2 separate regions of the Homo sapiens genome follow, and region 2 is linked to region 1. A link means that fine-mapping ties the variant in region 1 to the expression of a gene that starts in the linked region. Tissue or cell type: whole blood. Region 1 holds a variant in brackets; the other region holds the start of a gene. All regions are shown on one strand. Distances are from middle to middle.

Evidence for each region. PIP is the estimated chance that this variant, and not a neighbour inherited with it, causes the effect.
Region 2: it holds the start of UGCG, and the variant in region 1 is fine-mapped to the expression of UGCG in whole blood (INTERVAL, PIP 0.91).

The regions. Positions count from the first base shown.
Region 1 is chr9:111,999,149-112,007,255 of GRCh38, forward strand. No RefSeq gene overlaps it. Among named protein-coding and RNA genes, the nearest start is that of LINC02977, 37 kb to the right of the region's middle. The variant C/T (reference allele first, on the strand shown) is at 3,567.
Region 2 is chr9:111,893,331-111,901,420 of GRCh38, forward strand. It overlaps UGCG (UDP-glucose ceramide glucosyltransferase), which reads left to right and starts at 3,484. Exons shown (of 9, transcript NM_003358.3): 1 at 3,484-3,983. The coding sequence starts at 3,886. RefSeq lists an enhancer at 2,935-3,518 and silencers at 3,139-3,728, 3,839-3,928.

The sequences.
Region 1 (8,107 bases):
CAGTTTGTAGGGCTCATTGTGAAAATTAACTAAAATACATTGTGCAAGGTGCTAAATAATCGACTGATATTATTATATTCCTCTTTCAACCGTGCTGCACTATGCTTTCAAATTCATTTTCACGATCTTTGCAGTTAGGACTGATTTTTTTCTAATGGTAGTGTAAGTTTCATGTTTCAATATTTCATGCCAGTTGATCAGTCTGTTTCTCCAGTAAACAGAGCAAGGATATGTGCTCAATCATACTTGCCTCACTGGGAAGAAATAATTTTGCAGTGTCTACCTTTGCTCTGGTCCATGTCATAGCAGAGCCTGTGCTATAAGAAGAGTTTGTAGGTTGCACAAGATGTCACCAGGAATGCTCTTGGCAGGCTTTCAGAGGGCAGTAGCTGGAAGATAGGAGCTGCCATGTTACCAAATATTCAGAGAGCACAGGCCCGACCCAGCAGATGCTGGGAGTGTACGGGGACAAGTATACAGTCATGCTCCCTCATTACTGCTACCCACCCGAAGATGGGATACCCAGAAAGGTTTGGCCTCTCTAAATCTTAAGATTGAAGCTAATTTTCCCCTTCTCTAAGTTTTTAAGTATCAGGTAAGGGATTGAAATACATTTTTTAATGTAGAGAGTATGTAAGTTTGAAAGCAGAAATTACTTATATGGTCTTTTTAATTTCTCTGTATATGAGAACTATGGCTTTGGAGCCACCTGCTCGAGATAGGTGATGCTTGGAAGGTATAAGTGGAACCCAGATAAGAAGGAAATTTTGTGAGTAAATTTTACTCTCTTTTTATTGGTAGAACATATTTTAAAATCTTATATAAAGGTCCTAATTTTTGTAACATCTTCAAATATGTTGGAGCAAATTATATTTTCCAAAGTTGGCCTCACTAATGTATAGCATGACTCACAAGCTCTGATTATAGATATATGCAAATAACAATATGTTGATTACATCCCAGTAGCTATTGACCTTTGAGTTATGACCCAAAATTCAGACCCTAACACTTGACTGAAAGTCTTTTCCTATACTCTATTCTGCCCTAATGCAATGTTAAAAGCCCAGGAGGTAGAGTTAAACACCCTGGGTTTGATTCTCGGTTTACCACTAACCAGTTGTATGACCTTGAATGAGTGATTTGACCTTTCGGTGCCTCTGTTTCTTTATTTGTAAGATAGAGAAATAATTGTCTCAAATTCACGGAGTTGTTGCTAATTGAGTTAATACAGTTAACACCCTAAATATCCTAGAACAGTTCTAAAAACACAGTGTATGTTTAATATATGCTAGCTGATATTCTTCTTCTTTTTTTTTTGAGACAATCTCACTCTGTTGCCCAGGCTGCAGTGCAGTGACACGATCTCGGCTCATTGCAACCTCTGCCTCCCGGGTTCAAGCAATTCTCATACCTCAGCCTCCCCAGTAGCAGGGATTACAGGCGTGCACTACCACGCCGGGCTAATTTTTGTATTTATAGTAAAGATGAGGTTTTGCCATGCTGTCCAGGCCGGTCTCGATCTCCCGACCTCAGGGAATCCACCCACCTTGGCCTCCCAAAGTGCTGGGATTACAGGCATGAGCCATTTCACTTGGCCTATTATTCTGGGTGGTATCATTCAAATGGCTGATACAGAAGGAAATATAGAAGGAAATTGAGAAATACTGTAATCCAAGTACCAAGCTGATTTCTTTATTCTGGTTAATAAGTGAAGCAAGGAATTATCTGTTGACTCTCTCTACTGATACCCGCTCCACTGGTCATTTCTTGAGCAACTGAGAGCATGCTGTGGTGGGACTGAGGCTACCGCTGGAGGGAGCTGGCCTGATTCACACACTTTCTGGAAGCTGAGGGTTGGGAATGGGTGTGTGTGTGTGGAGGGGACTATGGAAAGGAGAGATCAGGGTACTTCGAGGGAAAGCTTACCCTAAGGAGAGAAAGGACTAAATTCAGTACATTAGTTGCACCAAGAACAAACCACATATTTTATTATTTTTCCCAATTTTAGGCCCCACACACTTACAGCAAGCCATGCCAACCCTCGGCCTTGGTGCAGGAGAAGGGGCAAAGCCTATAAAGTAAGGGGCTGGGTTGAAGGTGCTGGGCCAGGAGCGAACTCTGGAAGAGAGAAGAAGAAAGGCGGAGTCCTGAAACCGTCCTGCTTCACTCAAGGAGGAAGAAGCAGGGCCCTGCCTCCCCCTATTTCCACCTGAACCCCACTTTTTTTTTTTTTGATCCAGAGTCTTGCTCTGTCACCCAGGCTGGAGGGCAGTGGCATGATCTTAGCTCACTGCAACCTCCACCTTCCAGGTTCAAGCGATTGTCTGCCTCAGCCTCCCAAGTAGCTGGGATTACAGGCGCCCGCCACCACGCCCAGCTCATTTTTGTATTTTTACTAGAGATGGGGTTTCATCTTGTTGGCCAGGCTGGTCTCAAACCCCTGACCTCAAGTGATCCGCCTGCCTCGGCCTCCCAAAGTGCTGAGATTACAGGCATGAGCCACCGCGCCCAGACTGAACCCCATATTCTTAATAAGTTACTACATTTATCCCATCCTGTTCACCATGAGCACCATCATATATTGAGTCTTTTCCAATTATTTTATTTAGGCCTCATGAATTACTCTGAGATATATGCGTGTGTGTGTGTGTGTGTGTGTGTGTGTGTGTGTATACATATATATATATTTTTTTTTTTGAGACGGAGTCTCGCTTTGTCACCCAGGCTGGAGTGCAGTGGCATGATCTCGGCTCACTGCAACCTCTGCCTCCCTGGTTCAAGGGATTCTCCTGCCTCAGCCTCCCAAGTAGCTAGGACTACAAGCCCACACCACCACGCCCGGCGAATTTTTGTAGTTTTAGTAGAGACTTGGTTTCACCATGCTGACTAGGCTGGTCTTGAACTCCTGACCTTAGGTGATCCACCCACCTCAGCCTCCAAAAGCGCTGGGATTACAGGTGTGAGCTACCATGCCTGGCCTGAGTTCAATATTTTTCCGTCCAGGTAAGGATGGGAAATTCAGTTTCCTGTTAAAACTAGAATTTAAATCCAGTGCCAGTTCCAAGACTCATGAATTACACCACACTGACTCCCACAGTGAAAAGTTGAATTCTTTTCTGAGACAGAGTCTCACTCTATTGCCCAGGCTGGAATGTAGTAGCATGATCATGGCTTAACTGCAGCCTCGGCCTCCCAGGCTCAAGAAATCGTCATACCTCAGCCTCCCAAGTAGCTGGGACTACAGGCATGCTCCACCACACCCAGCTAATTTTTGTATTTTTTGTACAGATGAGGTTTCATCATGTTGCCCAGGCTGGAAAATTTAAATTTTTATCCCCATAAATCCAATCCCTCCCCTAACTACAGTTCCGGGAAAAGGAGGGAAAATTGGACGGTAGATATCAAAGCAGACTGGAGGCCTATAATAACAGGATATGCTGAGCACAGCAGAGCTCTTGGGTTATCATAAGTGCCAGTCACCTGCTCTCATCCTGCCTGTTTACAAGTCAGGAAATGAAGTGAGGGGGAAATTGACAAGTAAGCAAACTCTAGAAGTTTTGTTCATC[C/T]GCGAGACAGAAAAACGTCAAGGTTCCAGACAGGCTGAGCATGTAGCTCACGTCTCCTGCAGCCACACCAGACTGGAGGCCCAGTAAGATAAATGCCATCATGAATGCGCTCGCATCCACAAGCAGAACCCCTAGGGCACCAGCAGCTTCTTCTCCTGGCCAGTTCTGGTTGATGGACTCACGTAGGCTCACAGACTCATAAATACTTAGTTCAGATCCCAGCTGTCCTGTGTCCCCTCATAGGGTTGCTGTGAGAAATACAATGAGACAACATCTGTTAAGGACTCGCACAGTGCAGTGTTCACTCACCTCACTTGTCAAGGGTAATTCTAGACTTCTCCAAAAGGTTACAGAGTCCTGACAGTTCAAGGCCTTAGATATTTCAAATTAGCTTTCTTCCTCAGCCTCAGTTCAGGCTATCAGAACGCTCCACCAAAACGTTAAATCTGACCTCATCATAGTCACATAAATACCAGTTTGAAAGAAAAAATAGTTTATAAAACAACTGGCCGGGCGTGGTGACTCACGCCTGTAATCCTAGCACTTTGGGAGGCTGAGGCAAGTGGATCACGTGAGGTCAGGAGTTCCAGACCAGCCTGGCCCACATGGTGAAACCATATCTCTACTAAAAATACAAAAATTAGCTGGACGTGGTGACGCATGCTTGTAATCCCAGCTACTCAGGAGGCTGAGGCAGGAGAATCGCTTGAACCTAAGAAGCTGAGGTTGCAGTGAGCCAGGATTGCACCACTGCACTCCAGCCTGGGCAACAGAGCGAGATTATGTCTCAAAAACAAAAACAAAAAGCAACTGTAAGCGTGTATTCTATGGTCACACCACACAGTTCACTGTTAATTAATATAATTTAGAAGTCCTCTTACGGCTATCTTATGGAATAGCACATTCTGTATTATGGGAAAGTGTGGTTTCCAATTGTTTTGGTGGGAAGAGTCATTTCCAGGTTAGAGTTCCTTATCTCCTCATCATGGTTGACCTTGAGTGCATCGCTGGTCTAGGTGACTTAATTCAGCAGTGGTGGTTCCTCTTCAGGGGTAAACCCCAGATGATTTTTTTTTTTTTTTTTTTGAGACGGAGTTTCAATCTTTTTGCCCAGGCTGGAGTGCAATGGCGCAATTTTGGCTCACTGCAACCTCCACCTCCCAGGTTCAAGCCATTCACCTGCCTCAGCCTCCCAAATAGCTGGGATTACAGGCATGCACCACCACGCCCAGCTAATTTTGTAGTTTTAGTAGAGACGGGGTTTTGCCATATTGACCAGGCTCGTTTCAAACCCCTGACATCAGGAGATCCACCCACCTCAGCCGCCCAAAGTGCTGGGATTACAGATATGAGCCACCACACCTGGTCATGATTTTTTTTTTTAGACATTAGTTAACACCTGGTACATTCACAATGCTGTATAACCATCACTACTATTTCATTGCAGAAATCTTCATTACCTTGAAAGGAAACTTCATACCCATTAAGCAGTCATTTCCCACTCTCTCTTCCAGAACTTGGAAACCACTGATTTGCTTTCTATCTCTATGATTTGCCTATTCTCGATATTTCACATAAATGGAATCATTCAGATCATTTTTTTAAGAGGTGAGGTCTTACTATGTTGCCCAGGCTGCAGTGCAGTGGTCCATGGGTGCACTCGTAGTACACGATAGCCCAGAAATTCCTGGGCTCAAGCAATCCTCCTGCCTCAGCCTTTCGAGTAGCTGAGACTACAGGTATGCACCACCACTCCTGGGCAAATAATGTATTTTGAGAGCCAAAGCTAACCCATCTGACTGAGAGATCCCCACTTGGGGGGGCCCTGGGCCAATCAAGGATCCCCAGTTCACAGACCCCGTCACAGTCTATCCCCCTTCGACAGCCCCCAATGAGTGGCTTTCTCAGATGAGAAAAGAGGGTTGGTTGAGCTGCTTCTTCAGTGATTCCCATGGGCTGAAAACCCAGTTTTCCTCTTCCCTGGGCTTATCCTGACCCAACCTGGCCTTACACATCAGAGCCAACTGCTCCCACACTGCGAAGAGCCATTCTGTTGTAAGAAGTGTGCTCTCTGATGGCATATAAAGCCAAGGAATTAGAGACTAAGAAAAAGTGGCCAGAGAAGTAAGAGAAAAACCCAGGATTGTGAGATGTCATGGGGCCCAAAGGAAAGCAGACTGAAAAAAACAAGAGAGGAATCAACAGTGATCAAATAAGGTGAGAACTGCAAGAAAGCAAGCTTCAGGAGAGAAGTTTTGATGGCAAGAAGCCTCAGCTAGAAACCACACTGCTATGGGTTGCAGGTGGAATAGGAGGCAGAGTGGGTGGGGTGGAGGCAGTCAGGGTAACTGACACTCTCAAGAAGTTTGGCTGAAAAGGAGAATAGAGAAAATGAGTCGCATCCAAAGAGGAGCATTCACTGGGCATGGTGGCTCACACCTGTAATCCCAGCACTTTCAGGGGCCAAGGCAGGCGGATCACCTGAGGTCAGGAGTTCGAGACCAGCCTGGCCAACATGGTGAAACCCTGTCTCTACTAAAAATACAAAAATTAGCTAGGGTGATGGTGGGCAGCTGTAATCCCAGCTACTCTGGAGGCTGAGACAGGAGAATCGCTTGAACCTGGGGGGCAGAGGTTGCAGTGAGCAGAGATCACGCCACTGCACTCCAGCCTGGGTGATGAGTGAGACTCTGTCTCAAAAAAAAAAAAAAAAAAAAAAAAAAAGAGGAACATGGGCTCTAAGGCGGGTTATTTGAGTTTTTTTTCGTTTTATGTCGTTTTTAGAAAGGGTCTCACTCTGTTGCCCAGGCTGGAGTGCAGGGGCACAATCATAGCTCACTGCAGCTTCAACCTCTCCAGGATCAAGTGATCCTCTCACCTCAGCCTCCCGAGTAGCTGGGACCCCAGGCACGCACCACCACACACAGCTAATGTTTTTGTATTTCTGTAGAGACGGGGTTTCGCCAAGTTGCCCAGGGTGGTCTTTAACTCCTGGGCTCAAGCAATTCTCCCGCCTCAGCTTCCCAAAGTGCTGGGATTACAGGCATGAGCCACTGCACTCAGCCTATTCTGGGTTTTTATGTGTTTGTTTTTGGACCTGGAAGCAGAGAGCATGTTTTCATGTTGATAAAAATGCTCTCTTGGAGGAGAGATTGCAGGTGCAGGAGGGAGGATAACCACCTATTGTGCCTCAGAACGCTGAGGATGGATCCACTACAAAGATCCTTTAAAGGGGGACCTGCCCCAGCCATGAAGGCCTCACGGGATGATTCCACCGGCACACAGTCTGTCAAACATGCCTGGAAGCAGGGAGACTCTTGGCGGAGACTCTTGGCAGAGACTGCGATGGAGAAGAAAATGGCAGTGCAAGGTGCAGGCTGGGGCTCCAGGGTGAACTCAGCCTCTTCCCCAAAGTAGCCTCTTCTCACGCCAGAACGACTTCCTGTAAGTGTCTTAGACGAGGAATTGGTACAAGGTCAGCCTGGCTCCTGTCAACGTACCTCCCCAGGGACTTCCTCACAGCAATCTTAGAGGTGGACAATGCCTCTATTTCAGTCTTTCATTGTGGAAAAGGAACAGAAAAGAGTATAAAAGCAGGATTAGGGCAAAGCCAGAAAACAAGATTTCTGACTCCCAGCCTCTGATCCTGCCCCATCCGATGGAGGCGACATCCCTCCGAAGGAGCTGGTTCAGAGAGGTGAAGCAGCTAAGTGGTTGAAGGAGGTAATCAAAGTAACTGCACAGAGCACATTTCACGGGAAGAAGTACAAATAATATCTCCTTTTTTTAAAAAAAATAAATAAACTTGGAGGGTTGTGAAATTAGCCTGTCTCTGCAGGATGTACATCCTGAGATTTGTTTGGCCTCTCAAGGATAATCGGCTCTCTTTCCAATGAGATTACACAAAAGCCAGGGCCAAGCAGGAGCAGAGAGGCAACTGTCACATCTCACGCAAAGTCACATTATCAGCCATGGCACTGGTGGCTGGGTGGCAGATACCAGTGTACTCCAAAAGGGTTGGGGGCTCCGAGTGTGCATCAGCTTGCAGCATCAGTGGAAGCATCGGTCAGCTCTGCTCCTCTTCCTGGCCTTGGGGCCTCTCCAGGCCGCCCCCCACTCTGACATCTGATCCCATTCAGACTCTCCCCCCGCTGTTCTCTTGGGTATTCCCATCACAGCTATGATCATGAGATTATGCTGTGTTTGTTAGAGGCACAGTGGGAGGGTGAGAGAATGGTATTAATTCTCAGGACTAGTTACAACCCTCCAAAGAAGGGGAAAATGCGTGGTGCAAAGTGTTTTTTCCAAAGCTAGGCCTTATCTTGCCCGCAGTGTGGTAGCCACAGACAGGAGCGTCAGCAATTTTGTATGCCTCCTGCGTTGGACCGCAAAGGAGACAGAGGTGGTCCTAAAATGCACTTTCAGGCACTATCTCATTTAATTCTCACACTTCTGGAGGCATAGGGGTTGTTGCTGGAATTTTGCAGATGAGGAAATGAAGGCTTGAAAATGTTAATGATCGGCAGTGGTCATACAGCCAG
Region 2 (8,090 bases), 110 kb before region 1:
ATGCCTGGCTAGATTTTGTATTTTTTGTAGAAACAGGGTTTTACCACGTTGCCTGCCACCACGCCCAGCTAATTTTTCTATTTTTTGTAGAAACAGGGTTTCGCCATGTTGCCCAGGCTGGCTTGAGATCCTCCCACCTTGGCCTCCCACAGTGCTGCAATTACAGGCCTGAGCCACCGCGCCCAGCCGCAAACTGGTATATCTTATTCAGACATTTATAGCATTTCCAATGTTATACACATATTTGTATACATATATAAGTAGAACACCTTTAGTGGAACACTCACTAATTTTTTTTAAGAATTTACTTTTTAGAGTAGTTTTAGGTTCACAGCAAAACTGAGCAGAAAGTACAGAAGGTTCCCATATACCCACTGCCATTCCCTCCACCAGCCTCCTCCACTATTAACATCTTGCACCAGAGCACCATATTCGTTACAACTGATGGACCTACATTAACACACCATTATCACCTAAAGTCCATAGCTTACATTAGGGTTCACTCTTGGTGGTGTATTTTCTACGGGGTTTGCCAAATATATGACATGTATACACTATTATAGGATCATACAGAATAGTTTCACTCACAGCCCTAAAAATCCTGTCATCTATTTGTCCCTCTTTCCTCTGCTCCATGGCAACCACAGATCTTTATACTGTCTTCATACTCTTCCCTTTTCTAAAGCTGTTTTAAAACGAAGTTTGGGTAAACATAGTTTAACTAGGGTCAAGTATAATATAACTGATCTTTAATCTACTGATTATACTCAATTTAGCAAATTTGTTAACTCTTAAGAATATCTACTTTCACATTTCTTTGGCCTCTTTTTTTGTGTTATTGGTCATACTGTATAAAATCCTTTGTTGTAAGGTTCCAGAAAACATTTTTGAAAAAATGCAGAATATAAAACAATGCTTAAATTAAGCAATTGGTGTTCCTCAAATCTAAGAGGGCATTTAATGATAAGATGCAGCATTATTTTATATATCACTAAGATGCACTATTATTTTATATTTGAGTAAAAGAAAACCACAAGCCATTGGCTGGGCACGGTGACTCACGCCTGTAATCCCAGCACTTTGGGAGGCCGAGGCAGGTGGATCACGAGGTCAGGAGTTCGAGACTAGCCTGAACAATATGGTGAAACCCCGTCTCTACTAAAAACACAAAAATTAGCCGGGTGTGGTGGTGTGCAAATGTAGTCCCAGCTACTGGGGAGGGTGAGACAGGAGAATTGCTTGAACTCAGGAGGCGGAGGTTCCTGTGAGCCTAGATCACGCCACTGCACTCCAGCCTTGGCGACAGAGCGAGACTCCACCTCAAAAAAAAAAAAAAAAAAAAGAAAAAACGCCAATTAACTCTAAGATGGCATTGACTGTGAGATGCATTCCCATTTCAGAGAAATTAAAATTTGTTAAAGTGTTTTTTTGAAGTGTGCCTTAGAATTAACTACAATCGTAAATTTTTGTTTGGAACGTTATTTCGATGTTAGAATTCTATTCCACTTTTTTTTAAGACAGGGACTCACTGTCACCCAGGCTGGAGTTAAGTGGCGCGATCACAGCTCACTGCAGCCGCCACTTCCCAGGATCAGGTGATCCTACCACCTCAGCCTTCCCGGTAGCTGGGACTATAGGTGCCATAACCATGCCTGGCTAATTTTTTTTTTTTTTTTTTTTTGTAGAGACAGGGTTTCATCATGTTGCCCAGGCTGGTCTCAAACTCCTGGCCTCAAGCAATCCTCCTACCTGAGTCTCCCAAACTGCTGGGATTACAGGCATGAGCCACTGCGCCTGGCCCTCCATCCTGCTATTTTTATCAGCCAGTAACTCTCAACAGTGGGAATTTGATTTTGAAGCATTGTTCTTTCCCACTGATTCTGCACCAGTGGAGCCAAGGATGTTAATCGAGGAATGGTTCGGACATTAACTCTTCTAGTTGTAGTTTGTCATTTAATTGCAGATTGAGGTAGATCATTCAGTGACTATTAACTACCATAAACAGCAATAATAAACAACTTCTTTTCTTTTTTTTAAATTCATCTATTTTTTTTCGAGACAGAGTCTCGCTCTGTCGCCCAGGCTGGAGTGCAGTGGCGCGATCTCGGCTCACTGCAACCTCCGCCCCTCCAGGTTTAAGCAATTCTCTGCCTCAGCCTCCGGAGTAGCTGGGATTACAGGCGCCTGCCACCACGCCCGGCTAATTCTTTGTATTTTTAGTAGAGACGGGGTTTCACCATCTAGGCCAGGCCGGTCTTGAACTCCTGACCTCATGCTCCACCTGCCTCCGCCTCCCAAAGTGCTGGGACTACAGGTGTGAGCCACCGCGCCCAGCCACAACTTCTTTTCAAAATTGAATTCAATTCTGAAATATCTCAAGGGAGGTCATGGATTATTTAAAAGGAAATCACTTGCAACAATAAACATAAAACAATGCAGAAATAGTATAAACTCATCTAGATTGAAGAAACACAAACATTGAGTACTAGCATCTTCTTGGGATGACTTAAAATTAGGACAAATACTTAGTTACCTTACTACCCAAAGTGACATTTCTTCCCATTTTAGAGCTGTGCTGTCCACACGTACAATTAAAATTTTCTAGTAGCTAGCCAAAGTATTTAAAAAGAGAAATTAACTTAATAATTTACCTAATTTAATGTAGTATGTCCAAAATATTACCTTTTCAACATGCAATCAATATAAAATTTACTAACGAGATGGTCTTCCACATCTGGTGTACTGTTTACTCCACAGAGTGGCAAGCTGCCTTTCCAACCCTCACTTAGCCACATGCGGCTACCGTATTGGATGGCAGTCTTAGGGAATTTCAATATCAACTGATTCTTTAATTCTGAATTTGAGAATTTCTTTTTATAATACACACGGTCGCTAAGGCGCTTAGAGATCTGTGAGGCGCATGGAGATTATTTTACTCTCCGGTCCCTTTTGATCCAAGATCCCACAGCATTAAAAGCAGTAAGAGGGAAGGCAATGGGCATCCCTTGCGCCCAGGAACGTGGCCTGGAGGGCCTGGCTGCTCCGAGCAGTAGCAGTGCCCGGCGGGGAGGCTGCAGACGCGGCGTTGGAAGTTGGATTTCTAGACAAGCTCCGGCAGCTGCCCGGAACCCGTGTCTTTTTCTGGGGCACCCAGGAACAGCAGGGCCAGACGGAGAGAGAGCAGCCTCCAGCCAGGCACAGGGTCCCGAGCTGCCACCGACACCGAGGGAGCCCGGCCCAGGGCTGCAGCGCTTTCCGCCTAGGTGGGCGGCAGCGGGAGCGAGGAGCCGGAGGAAGCCCGGCCTGCGTCCTGCGGGCAGCAGGACACGATCTCCCCGGCGCGCTCTCGCCGGCGCCGCAGCGGGCGCGCGGGCGACAGGGTGGGCGTGGACCGATGGGGGCACCGCCCCTGGGAGAGGCGGGCGCCGCGGTTCCGGGGGCGGGACGCGCCGAGGAGTGGGGCGCGAGCCGCCGGTTTTGATTAGTGCGCGGAGCTGCGGCGGTGGAGCTGCTCGGCCGGGAGCCCGGCGGCGAGACGGAGAGGCGGCGGAGGTGCCCGCGCGCAGGGTCTGGTGGGCGGCCGCGAGGCTCGGGAGAGGCGAACCGGAGCGCGGGACCGCGGTCGCCCCGACCAGAGCCGGGAGACCGCAGCACCCGCAGCCGCCCGCGAGCGCGCCGAAGACAGCGCGCAGGCGAGAGCGCGCGGGCGGGGGCGCGCAGGCCCTGCCCGCCCCTTCCGTCCCCACCCCCCTCCGCCCTTTCCTCTCCCCACCTTCCTCTCGCCTCCCGCGCCCCCGCACCGGGCGCCCACCCTGTCCTCCTCCTGCGGGAGCGTTGTCCGTGTTGGCGGCCGCAGCGGGCCGGGCCGGTCCGGCGGGCCGGGGGATGGCGCTGCTGGACCTGGCCTTGGAGGGAATGGCCGTCTTCGGGTTCGTCCTCTTCTTGGTGCTGTGGCTGATGCATTTCATGGCTATCATCTACACGTGAGTGAGGGACCGCAGGAGGGGCTCGGGGCAGGGGTCCGGGCCTCGGAGACAGGCGAGAATGGGAAACGTTTGCGCTTTGAAGGGGACTGGGCTCGGGCGGGGGTGGAGAAAGCTGATCGTCAGGCTGTTCCCCCCGTTCCCTCGCCCCTCGGACCGGCGGTGGCGGTGGTCTTTGCGAGGGAAAAGTGTTGGGCGTGGGAAGGGTTTGCTGGGTTGCAGGCGACTGCCCAGCCAGGCTAAAGGAGACTGCTCTTACGTGTCAGGCTGAAGGTGGTGGCTTGGTTTGATTGTGCTGGGGATTCGTGTAATTTTTCATCTGGGCCGAGATGTATGGTGTATTGTTTTTTTCTCCCGACCTGGGCCACGTTTCTGTTAGGGTGGTGATTGTGTCCACTTTTCTGGGAGCTGCTCACAGCTATCTGGACACCTCTCTGTGGATTTTCTTCTTCCTGGAAGGGCTCTATGCGCTTAGATAGGTGTGAAGCACCTGTCCACCCTGAAAAATGTCCACCAAACCTCCGAGCTGGCATGATAGCTTTGAGTCCTGTCAGCTTGTACATCTCAGCGTGGTTTTCTTTCCTTTTTTCAGTTCCTCGTTTTATTGTTTTATGTAGATTTGTACTCTCCCCGTGCCGGCCACATCTTTTCATTTTTGTTTAACAAATACTTCTTGAGGCCTACTAGATACCATTCACTGTTATTGGCCAGGGGACATGGTGGTGAGCAGGACAGAATTCCTGTCCTCATGAGTCTTACATTCTAGAAGGAAGGAGCAGATAAAATCTAAATAAGGTTATGAGATTGTGACGAAGCGTGTAAGTAAAATAGAACTGGGTGATGGCGTGAATAGAGACATGGGTTATGTGGCTAGTTTGGTATATCCACTGTTTAAGGTGAAATCTGCCTCTGTAAAGAAATGAAAAAATTATATAGAGCACATTACTGATATCGATTCACTTGGATTTTTAGTCTGGGGGGAGAAAAGAGCAATTGTATATAGTAATCGTTACCATGAACTAGAATAGAGTGTATGTTAGTGGAAGAGACTTTAAGAAATTAGTTACTTTTAGTTTTTTGGTTTTTTTTTTTTCCTTTTTACTGCGGAAAAAGTGTGCCTTTGCTTTTGGAAACACTGTATTTTATTAGTATAGTGTGGCATTTCCTGGTACTGAGAAAGATGATGCTGGTACAGGTTATACTGATATTTCTTTGAAAGTGAAAGAAAACATGCCACTTGGATATTGTTGACTTTAGTTTTTGGAGTTGGTGAGCTTAGTCACAGCACATTCTGGAGTTCATTTAAAATATGTGAGTTCTTTTTCTTTAAAAAAATTGTTACTTTTTACCGTCATAAAAATAAAAAATGCTTACTGTGTAAGGAATTTATGCAATAGAGAGAGATGGAGAAAATTAAAATATGCACACACCAAAACTACATTACCTTGTTAACCTTTTGTGACTATCCTTCCAATCTGTGTGTGTGTGTGAGAGAGAGAGAAGGAGGGAGGGGAAGAGGGAAGAGAGAAAAGGACTATATTATGATTATTGTTCTGTAACCTGCTTTAAAGTTCATCTGTTTAATAAATGTTTATTGAAAAGCCGTTTTGTGCAAGGCACTGTTCTAGTTGCTGGAAGAGTGAAGAACAAACATACAAGGCCCCTGTTCACATGGAACTGTCCTGTAAAATGTCTTGACCGTTTTTTGCATGTCAATATCTGTATGATCTCTACATCATTTGTAATAGATGCATGATATTTTAGTTTACCAGGTACCAAGATTTATTTATTATTACTGATGGATGTTTAGGTTGTTTCCAATTTATCTAGATTACAAAGAACACTGTGATGAATTTATATGCATACATCTTTGAGAAATGATCTCATTTATATTTCCGAAAGAGGAATTATTGGGCCAGAAGTGGTGCACATTTTAAACTTTGATACATATTGGCCCCATGGAAATGTTATGTATATTCACAGTCCTGGTAACATTGTATGATGGCCCCATTTTGCCTTACAAACACTAAGTAGCAGGCATTTCACTGTTTTCTGTTTCTATTTTCATTCCTTTAAAGTTACATTGAGCACTTTTAAAATATGTTTATATGCTAGTTACATTTAGATGTAAATTACATACTCATAATCCTTTGCCTGTGCTGCAATCTGTTGCTGAATTCATCTTTCTGATATAAAGGTTGTTTTCTGTCACATGTAGCATTCTTTTCCCCAGTCTGTTTTTTGTCTTTTAACTTTGTACATATATTTGACATGGAGAAAAGTGTGTGTGCATGTGTGTTTTAGGTAGATAGGTCTTTCCGTTTCTTTTACATTTTCTAACTCTGTTATAATTTTTATATCTTCCTTATTCCTCCAAATTATTATATATGTTAGTCTCTGCTTCCTCTTAGTATTTTTTTCTTAATTTTTTCACATATTACCCTGAATTCACCCAGTATTTTACTTCGTTATATGAGAGCTAGAGCCCTAATTATAGTTTCTTCTAAATATTTAGAGACTTGTCCAGAATTACTTATCAGATGATTATTTGATTATTCCACTGTTTTGAAATATTTTTATTATAAACTAAATTCTGCTTTATACTTGGGTATGTTTCAAAGCTTCTATTGCCCTTTCTTAACCTATTTTAGATGGCAGATGTTTGTAGGATTTCTGCCAACAATGTCAAAGGTAACATTCAGATTAGAGACATTTCAAATTCAAGAGTCTTATTGTTGAGATTGAAGATTTCCTAAAAATAACTAAAGAGTATAGCCTTGGCAAGTTAAATAGCCTTTATGGGTTAATTTTTTTTTTTTTTTTTAATGGTAAGTGCTAGTGTGGCTTGATAGGTTGGGGCCTAAGGTGAAATTGTATAAAAGCCTAGACCTGATGGTAGTGTTTCTCTTCTAGCCCTTGGGAGCCACGTTGCTGCGTGATGAAGTGATCTAAGCAGAAACCTTGCTTCATGCTCTCTTCCCTATCCCATCCACCTCATATTATTATTATTTCCCTGTGTACATAAGGTCCTAATGTTTATCATCAGGCTTTATCTTTCGACTGGAGGTGCTAGGCTAGTGTGGAAATAATTTATGTGTCCTTAAATATTAGCTACCCTCAAGTAAAACAGAGGTCCTTTTTTACCTGGAGGTGTATATGTATATGTGTGTGTGTGTGTGTGTGTGTATTCTTTCTTTGATACAGGGTCTTGCTCTGTTGCTTAGGCTGGAGTGCAATGGCACGATCTTGGCTGACTGCAACCACCGCATCCCAGGCTGAAATGATTCTCCTGCTTCAGCTTCCTAAGTAGCTCCCAAGTAGCTGGGACTACAGGCATGCCTGGCTAATTTTTGTGCTTTTTGTAGAGACAGGGTTCTGCCATGTTTCCCAGGCTGGTCTTGAACTCCTGGACTTAAGTGATCTACCTGTCTTGGCTCCCAAAGTGCTGGGATTACAGGTGTGAGCCATCATGCCTGGCCCCCTGGAGATTTTTTAAGTTTTTTTTAAAGTTAATTCTGCTTTCTACAAACGTATTTCCTTTATTTTGTTTATTGTTATTTTTTTGAGACAGTCCTCTCTGTTGCCCAGGCTGGAATGCAGTGGCTCGATCACGGCTTCACATCCCAGGCTCGAGCAATTCTCCCACCTCAGCCTCCCAAGTAGCTGGGACTACCGGTGCATGCCATCACGCCCAGCTAATTTTTGTCACCCAGGCTGGTCTCAAACTCCTGGGCTCAAGTGATCCCCCCACCTTGGCCTCCTGAAGTTCTGGGATTACGGGCGTGAGCCACTGCGCCCAACCCAAATATGCTATCTCTAATGTACAGCAACTTCAATACCTGATGCACAGTTTTTGAATGGAATTTGCATACTCATTGTGTCAGGATAACTGCGATAAACTACCCGTCAAAAACTGGTTATGTTTTTCATGTAAATTTTAGCATTTGGGATATTATTTTTAGTTAGTACGATCTTTGCCTTAAATTCATGAATACTTGGTGTTCCAAGCCTTAGTGGAATGTAAATTGAGAACGTCTTTTTTGGGTTTAGTCCTGCCAATGCCCTTGGACTGTGGTCAAACGTTCATCAGTCAGGATCATTGCTACA